Regions from separate parts of the Homo sapiens genome. Here region 2 is linked to region 1. The links come from fine-mapping of genetic effects on gene expression. Tissue or cell type: whole blood. Region 1 holds a variant in brackets; the other region holds the start of a gene. All regions are shown on one strand. Distances are between the middles of the regions.

Region 1 (4,153 bases):
GAGACTGTCTCAAAAAAAAAAAATCTTCCTGTGGATTTTGCAGGGTGGCCCATCAACTGGGCATGTCCCCATCCCCCGGCCCTGCTCAGCCACATCACCGCAGGCACACCGCCACCACACCACCGCTGGCACACTGCTGGCACACCTCCGCCACACCGCGGGCACACTGCTGGCTGGGTGGGGCCGTGTTGGCTGAGGAAGGGCTCTCCTGTGTCCACCGTCAGGCTGTGGTTGTCGGCCCAGCCCAGTCCTGCCTCAGCCCGGCACCCTGAATGCTGGGAGCTCCACACCCGCCTGCCCCGGGGAGTTCCAGCCTGTCGAGTGTCCACCCCACCATGGTCATTGTGCGCATTTCATGAGCCGTGTGAGGGAGCCTCCAGTACCCAGGGAGCTGTGTGTCACGCAGCCCAGGCCCATCCAGCGCCCATTGGTCAGGGCAAGGCGGGGCCCGGCACAGGGCCTGAGATGGCGCCATGGCCTGTACCCAGCTGGGCACCCCAGAGCCTTGGCGGGCGCCAGTGCGTGGTGGGTTTCGGAGGCAGGTCTCTTCCCTTCCCTGCAGTTTGAGACCGGGGCCGCCCCCATGCTGCGGGCTCCTCTCCGGCAGGCTGGTCACAGCTGTGCTCTCTGTTCCCTTCAGGGCTGGGTTACGACCCCTACAACCCTGAGCTGCCCAAGCCCCCCGCGCAGAGGGAGAATGGCACCCTGGGCCTGGGGGAGGAGCCGCGCCCGGATGTGCTGGAGTTGGAGCTGGTCAACCAGGCCATCGAGGCCGTGCGCAGTGAGGTGGAGCTGGAGCAGCGGCGCTACCGGGAGCTGCTGGAGACGACCCGTGAGCACCGCTCCGCCGAGGCCCCCGCCCTGGCGCCCCGCGGCCCCAACGCCAGCCCCACTGTGGGCCCGGACGAGGATGCCTTCCCACTGGCCTTCGACTACAGCCCCGGCAGCCACGGCCTATTAAGCCCTGATGCCGGCTACCAGCCCACCCCACTGGCCGCCCCTGCCGAGCCGGGCAGCAAGTACTCGCTGGCGTCCCTGGACAGGGGTCAGGGCAGAGGTGGAGGGGGTGGCGGTGCCCTGGAATACGTCCCCAAGGCTGTGAGCCAGCCCCGGCGGCACAGCCGCCCCGTTCCCAGTGGCAAGTACGTGGTGGACAACTCCAGGCCACCCACAGACCTGGAGTATGACCCTCTCTCCAACTACTCGGCCCGGCACCTCAGCAGGGCCAGCTCCCGGGATGAGCGGGCCGCCAAGCGGCCCCGGGGCTCCCGCGGCAGTGAGCCCTACACACCTGCTCCCAAGAAGCTCTGTGACCCCTTTGGCAGTTGCGATGCAAGGTTCTCAGACTCAGAAGATGAGGCCGCCACGGTCCCAGGTAACGAGCCCACCACGGCCAGCACCCCCAAAGCCAGGGCCGACCCTGAGATCAAGGCCACCGGGCAGCCACCCTCCAAAGAGGGCCTGGAGGCCGAGGGGGGCGGCCTGCGGGAGACCAAGGAGACGGCCGTGCAGTGCGACGTGGGGGACCTCCAGCCGCCCCCAGCCAAGCCCGCCTCCCCAGCCCAGGTCCAGTCCTCACAGGATGGGGGCTGCCCCAAGGAGGGAAAACCCAAGAAGAAAAAAACCGGGGCCCCACCTGCCCCCAGCTGCAAAGACGGGGCCCAGGGGAAGGACAAGACCAAGGACAAGGGCCGAGGGCGGCCTGTGGAGAAGCCCCGTGCGGACAAGAAGGGCCCGCAGGCCAGCAGCCCCCGGCGCAAGGCAGAGCGGCCGGAAGGGACCAAGAAGAAGCCATCTTCGGCCACTCCTGTGGCCACCTCAGGGAAAGGGAGGCCTGACCGGCCAGCGCGGCGGCCGAGCCCCACAAGCGGGGACTCCCGACCGGCGGCCGGCAGAGGCCCACCCCGCCCCCTCCAGCTGCCCGACAGGAAGAGCACCAAGGCCCCGTCGGGGAAGCTAGTGGAGCGGAAAGCCCGCTCACTAGACGAGGGCGCCTCCCAGGACGCCCCCAAGCTGAAGAAGCGGGCCCTGAGCCACGCCGACCTCTTTGGGGACGAGAGTGAGGACGAGGCCGCAGGGCCAGGGGTGCCGAGCGTGTGGCCCTCTGCCCTCCCCAGCCTCAGCTCGGACTCAGACTCCGACTCAGACTCCAGCCTGGGCTTCCCGGAGGCGCAGGGGCCGCCCAAGCGGCTCAAGGCCTCCCCGCCCCCCTCCCCCGCCCCATCCTCCTCCTCCTCCTCCTCCTCCTCC[A/TCCA]CCTCCAGCGCGGGGGCGGATGTGGACTACTCGGCCCTGGAGAAGGAGGTGGACTTTGACTCCGACCCCATGGAGGAGTGCCTGCGGATCTTCAACGAGTCCACCAGCGTCAAGACGGAGGACAGAGGCCGGCTGGCCCGGCAGGTGAGGCGCGCGGGTGCTGGGGCTGGGCTCGGGCAGAGGCAGAGCCGAGGGCCTGGTGAGAGACCTTCTATCTGGAGTGGTTTCCAGTTGGCTCGGAGGCACGGGGTGGAGGCAGCTCCTCAGTGCTGGTCCCTGAGCCCGTTGAAATCTCAGGAGCTCAGGAGCACCCGGGCAGCCCTGTTGCTCCTGTTGCCCCTCACCCACCCAGAGGTCACTGGCCCGTGGCCACCAGCCAGGCTTCTGTGGCCACGTGCACACGGTCTGTTCCCACTGACTGGCAGGGGGATATTGGCCCACCCACCCACCTCAGGGGAATCCACCTCCGGCACACCCTTCTAGCCCCTCTCCCCTCGCCTCCCCTTTCCTCCCTTCCCCCTCTCTTCTCCCCTCCTCCCTTCCCCCATCTCTGTCTCTTCTCTTCCAGCTCCTCTGTCTCCTCTCCTTGCCTCCTCCTCATCCCCTCCGGCTCCTTTCTCCTCCCCTCCCTCCTCCCTACTCCCAGCGTGGCGAGCTCTTGCTCTCCTGGGCCAGCCCTGGACCCCTGGGTCTCCTGGCCCCGTGTCCCCAAATTGGCCACCAGGGGGAGCTCACTCCACACAGACTGAGCCCAAGTGCTCAGCCCGCAGCAGCTGGTTCGGCCCAAGGTGGCCTCGCTTTCCCAGTGTGCTTTCATTCTGCAGCCCTGGGGTCTCCAAGCTGGGGCCCTGGGTGCCCAGGAGAGGTAGCCTTGGGCATCTGCAGAACGTGTGACACCTGCCCACCCCTCCGACTGCACCCACACAAAGCCCAGGGACTGTTGGCCCTGAGCCCTCAGCTGCTGTGCCTGGGGGCTGGACTGTTCCATTCCCCACTTGCCGGGGGCAGTTTGAGGTTGGGGTGTGTTGGTGTTGGCAGCGAGGGCAGACCTGTGCTGACGGACGGACATGTGTCTTAGCCCCCCAAGGAAGAGAAGAGTGAGGAGAAGGGGCTTTCGGGTCTGACCACTCTGTTCCCCGGGCAGAAGAGGAGGATCTCCCACCTTTCCAAGCAAGGCCAGGAGGTAAGGTCCGCAGAGGCCAGGCCAGCAGGAGCCTTTTTTTTTTTTTTTTTTAAAGACGAGGTTGGCCTGGTTTGGTGGCTCACGCCTGTAATCCCAGCACTTTGGGAGGCCAAGGCGGGTGGATCACCTGAGGCCAGGAGTTCGAGACCAGCCTGGCCAGCATGGCAAAACCCCATCTGTACTAAAAATACAAAAATTAGCTGGGCATGGTGATGGGTGCCTGTAATACCAGCTACTAGAGAGGCTGAGGCAGGAGAATCGCTTGAACTCAGGAGGCAGAGGTTACAGTGAGCCAAGATTGCACCACTGCACTCCAGCCTGGGTGATAGAGCAAGACTCTGTCTCAAAAAAAAAAAATTATAAAAAAAGGGGGTCTTGCTTTGTCACCCAGGCTGGTCTTCCAACTCCTGACCTCAAGTGATCCTCCTGCCTCGGCTTCCCAGCGTTGGGATTACAGGCGTGAGCCACTGCTCCCAGCTTCATCCCTCTGTTTTCTGTTTGTTTGTTTTTTGGTTGTTTTTTTTTTTTTTTTTTTTTTTGAGACGGAGTCTCGCTCTGTTACCCAGGCTGGAGTGCAGTGGCACGATCTCTGCTCACTGCAACTTCCGCCTCCCGGGCTTAAGTGATTTTCCTGCTTCAGCCTCCCGAGTACCTGGGATTACAGGTGCCCACCACCACACCAGGCTAATTTTTGTATCTTTAGTAGAGACGGGGTTTCAC
Region 2 (4,153 bases), 37 kb before region 1:
AGGACAGAGCCCTGTGCCGGGCGCTGCTGGAGGTTTGTCTGTGTTCACCGCAGGGGTCATGGGTTGCCTGAGTGTTCCTGGGGCTTAGGGGTGTGAATAGAAGCCTCATGGGTGGGGTGTGGGCTGTGTGCCCTCACCTGGGGTCTCCTGCCTGTGGAGTGGCTGGCATGACCTGCAGATGAGGCCACTCACTTGAAACCCTGATAATGGCTGGAGTGGGCAGACAATGGAGTCTCACAGTGAAGGTCCTGCCTGGGGCCATGTGGCCCACCCCTGGAGGCTGCTCACCCCTGCCCCCCATCGTTAGCCTCCCAGTTACAACTGTAAGCCCCTTGAGGGCAGGGCTGGTTGGTTCTGCTCTAAGCCCAGGAAACATCAGTGGAAGACGCATGGTTGGGTGTGGACCCTGAGGCCTCAAGACACACCTGTCCACAAGCCAATGCGGGGTTCCAGGACCCTGGGGGCTGCTGGGATGGTGGGGACCTGGGGGACCTGCCCAAGTGGCCCATCGTCCTAGAAGTTCAAAGACAACAGAGGCCCAGCAGGAGCAGGAACGCCGACCCCCAGCGCCCACCGAATGGTAGGGGTGCAGAGAGGGCTCTGGAGCCCAGGCCTAGGAGAGGGGCAAGTGTGTGCAGGGCACCCTGTACCCTCCCACACTTCGCTGAACCTCCTCTCTCTCGGCTCCGCTCTGTCCAGCCACGTAGAGTGGGCTTACTGGGGCCCAGGGAGGGCTCAGCTGGCTTAACCAAGCATGGTTGAGCCCAGGCGCAGTGCGGGCGACCCAGGGAACAGTGGTCAGCCTCAGGGCGTCAGCTGGGGTTGCAGGTGGGCGGGGGATGGGGCTAGAGAAGCCCCGAATCGGGTCAGGGCCTCTGTCCATGCCCAACCCAGAGCAGGAGGTCGCCGCAGGCCAAAGCAGCTCCGCCCCCTGGAGGCAGCTCCGGCCACTGCGCAGTCCCCGCCGCCCCGCCGGAGCTGGGAAGGGGCGGGAGCGCGGTCGCGACCGAGGGGGGCCGCCCAGTTTCTGTGCCCCCGCCGCCTTGGGCCTGCGAACTGGGCCATCCGCGTCCCTGGTGTCCCCCCTAATATTTAACAAGTTGGCCTGGACGTCCTCGCGGCCGGGAGGCCCGAATACCTGGCCTCAGTTTTCCCGTCCGAACCCCAAGAATCGATGCCTGGGAATGGAAAGAGAAGCCCCGGACCCCGGTGTCCCAGCAGGGCGGGGAACCTCTGACCCGCTCAGGCGCCCCCAGCCCAGCCCAGCCCTTTGCGTTCGGCCCCCTCTTCCCGTCCCCCTATCCCGACCCTCTGGGACCCAACCGGCCCTCCCCACCCCCAGTGGGGCGCGCTCTAGTAGCTCCGGAACTGGGTGCAAAAAGAGGAACGAACGCAGCCTTGCCCCACCCTCCCGGGCCCCGCCGCGGGCGCGGGATACCGGGTGTCTCGGCCGGGAGGCTCCGAGGGGCTCTGTGAGCGGCGAGGGGGAACCCCAGAGAAGAGGACGAGCAGATGCCTGAGTGCGGGGTCAAAGCAGGGCCCCAGGCCGGGAGAAGAGGGGGGAAGGGTCGCGCACGTGGCCTGGGGGCGGGGCCGGCCGCTTCCGCACCCCTCCAACCCCGGCCACGTGGGGATCGGAGCCCTCCTCCATCGCGAACGGGGGCGCGCCCGGGGCCAGGAGGGAAGCATCCGGGGAGGGGGCGGGCTCCCGCCGGCCGCGCGCCCCGGCGTGGGGTGGGCGCGCCAGCGAGGAGGCGGGGCGCGCTCTGGGAGGGAGGGGCGTGCCGGGATGGGGCGGGGCGCGCTCTCGGAAGGAGGGGCGTGCCGGAGAGGGGGCGGGGTCCTCGGCCTCCCGCCCCGGCTTGAGGGGGTGGTGCTCCGGGAAAGGGTACGGGGGCGCGCGCTGGAGTGGGGCGCGCCGGGAGGGGGCGGGGCTCCCGGCCTTGCACCCTAGCGCGGAGAAGGCGCGCTCCGGGCCTAAGACGCTAGGCGCTGGCGGAGGCCGGAGTGGGCGCGCCGGGGGGCGGGTTCCTCCGGCCCGAGCCCCGCCCCCGGCGGCCGCGCGCGGCTCGGAGAGTGGTGGAGGGCGCGCCGGGCGGGGGGCGTGGCTGCGGCGCCCCGAGGGGGCGTCCTCCGGGCGGGGCGGGCTGTGGCCGCCCCCGCGGGCTCCGGTGCGTCAGGACGCGTCAGGCGGGGCGGGGCAGGCCGAGCGCGGGCGTCGGCGGCGGCGCGCGCCGGGCCTCCTCCTCCTCCTCCTCCGCCTCCCGCACTCGAGCAGCCGCCGCCGGCCGGACGGACGCCGCTCCCGCCGCCTCCGCTCCGCCCGCCGCGCCGCGCGCCCTTGCTCGGCATGTCGGCGGCCGTGGCGTGCGTGGATTACTTCGCCGCCGACGTGCTCATGGCCATCTCTTCGGGCGCCGTGGTGCACCGCGGGCGGCCCGGCCCCGAGGGCGCGGGCCCCGCCGCCGGCCTGGATGTGCGCGCGGCGCGCCGCGAGGCCGCCTCACCCGGGACCCCGGGGCCACCCCCGCCGCCCCCCGCCGCTTCTGGCCCGGGCCCCGGCGCCGCCGCGGCGCCCCACCTGCTGGCCGCCAGCATCCTGGCCGACCTGCGCGGCGGACCCGGAGCCGCCCCGGGGGGCGCCTCGCCCGCCTCCTCCTCCTCAGCCGCCTCGTCCCCGTCCTCGGGCCGCGCCCCCGGCGCCGCGCCCTCCGCCGCCGCCAAGAGCCACCGCTGTCCCTTCCCGGACTGCGCCAAAGCCTACTACAAGTCCTCGCACCTAAAGTCGCACCTGCGGACGCACACAGGTGAGTGCAGCCGCGATCCCGGCCCTTGCGGGGGCGGCCGCCTGAGACCCCTCCCCCGCCAGGACCCCGAAACTGCGTGGCGCGTGGGGGGCGGGGAGGGGGGCGCGCCCGGGCCGCCGCCGCGCCGGCCGGCAGGGCGGGGCCTCGGTGGGTGGGGCGCGCGCGGGGGGCGTGGCGGCCACGCGGTCGGGCGGCGAGCGGATGGCCGCCCCGGCGGCAGTGGCGGGGGCTCCGGGGGCCCAGCGAGGTCTGCGGGCGGGATTGAGACTCCTGGGCAGACCACCTCTCTCCCTTTCTGGGCCTTGTTCCGTTTTTTTTTTTTTCTTTTGCGTTCTGGTCTGGGCGGTGGGCACCGTGGTTGGAGCATCCGGCTCTGGGGTTCTGGGTTCTCCCCCTCCCCCAGCCTCAGTTTCCTTATCTGTGAAAATGGAGGAGGAACCGCGTCGCCGCCGCCGGGGTGGCCGCGCGGATTCTCCCCAGAGGTCGGCAGAGCACCTGGCGTGGGGCCAGGATGGGGGGAGCCCGGCACGTTTTCTCTGCGTTCTCTGTATTTTAACGAGGGGGAGGGCGAGGCTAGGAGCGCGGGTTGGGGCCTGAGTCTGGGCGGGGGAACTTCATAGTATTGGAGGACCCTCGAGGGGCTCGGGTCCACACTGCTGTATTTCCCTGGCGTGTTTGTTCACCCCTACCTGGCGGGCGATTCGGGAAGGTGCGCGTAGTTGGAGCGCTTCGGCTACACCAACGCCCCTCCTAGCGCAGTCCCCGGGGCGGCGAGGGGAACCGGGAGCCTGGTGGGCCTGGCTGTATTTTTTCACTCCGTCCCCTCCTAGGGTTCCACTTTCTGGACTGGGAGTTTGGACTGGGCAACAGGGGACGGTGGGCCTTGATGGCCGGCCCTGGTTTGGGCATTAGAGGTGCTTGTCCCTTCCGGGGAGGGTGGGGGGCTGGGGGAAAGCTGTGCGGCTGCCCTTGGGCTTGGCATTCTGGCCTTGCCACCAAACAGAAGACCTCTACCCGATCTGGGTCTCAATTTTCTCATTTCTATCAAGAGTGCGATGCTGCCTCTATTTCATAGCCATAGCGGTGGCCGCTTTGGGCAGCTGGACACTCCAAGGAGGCTTGGTCCGTGGGCTCGGATTGTAGGGACACGTGGAGCAGCCGAAGGGAAGTGGGCCGTCCAGAGTGGTGGGGCTGAGATGAGCAGGGGCCGCGAATGCCTTGCGGAAGAATTGAGGGTCCATCTTTGGGGTATGGGGAGCCGCGCTGGGACGCCTGAGGGTGGAGAGCAGGAGGGCGGGTGGGGGCGGTGGTGTGTAGCCTGCCGGCCGCCCCCTCTCTGTTCTGCA

Evidence for each region. PIP is the estimated chance that this variant, and not a neighbour inherited with it, causes the effect.
Region 2: it holds the start of KLF16, and the variant in region 1 is fine-mapped to the expression of KLF16 in whole blood (INTERVAL, PIP 0.91).

The regions. Positions count from the first base shown.
Region 1 is chr19:1,825,119-1,829,271 of GRCh38, reverse strand. REXO1 (RNA exonuclease 1 homolog) reads left to right here. Exons shown (of 16, transcript NM_020695.4): 2 at 641-2,394; 3 at 3,329-3,433. Among named protein-coding and RNA genes, the nearest start is that of MIR1909, 11 kb to the right of the region's middle. RefSeq lists an enhancer at 303-803 and a silencer at 1,929-2,064. The variant A/TCCA (reference allele first, on the strand shown) is at 2,251.
Region 2 is chr19:1,861,695-1,865,847 of GRCh38, reverse strand. It overlaps KLF16 (KLF transcription factor 16), which reads left to right and starts at 2,269. Exons shown (of 2, transcript NM_031918.4): 1 at 2,269-2,807. The coding sequence starts at 2,351. RefSeq lists enhancers at 179-733, 3,841-4,153, silencers at 907-1,126, 1,197-2,296, 2,627-2,806, 2,857-3,026 and a promoter at 1,176-2,380.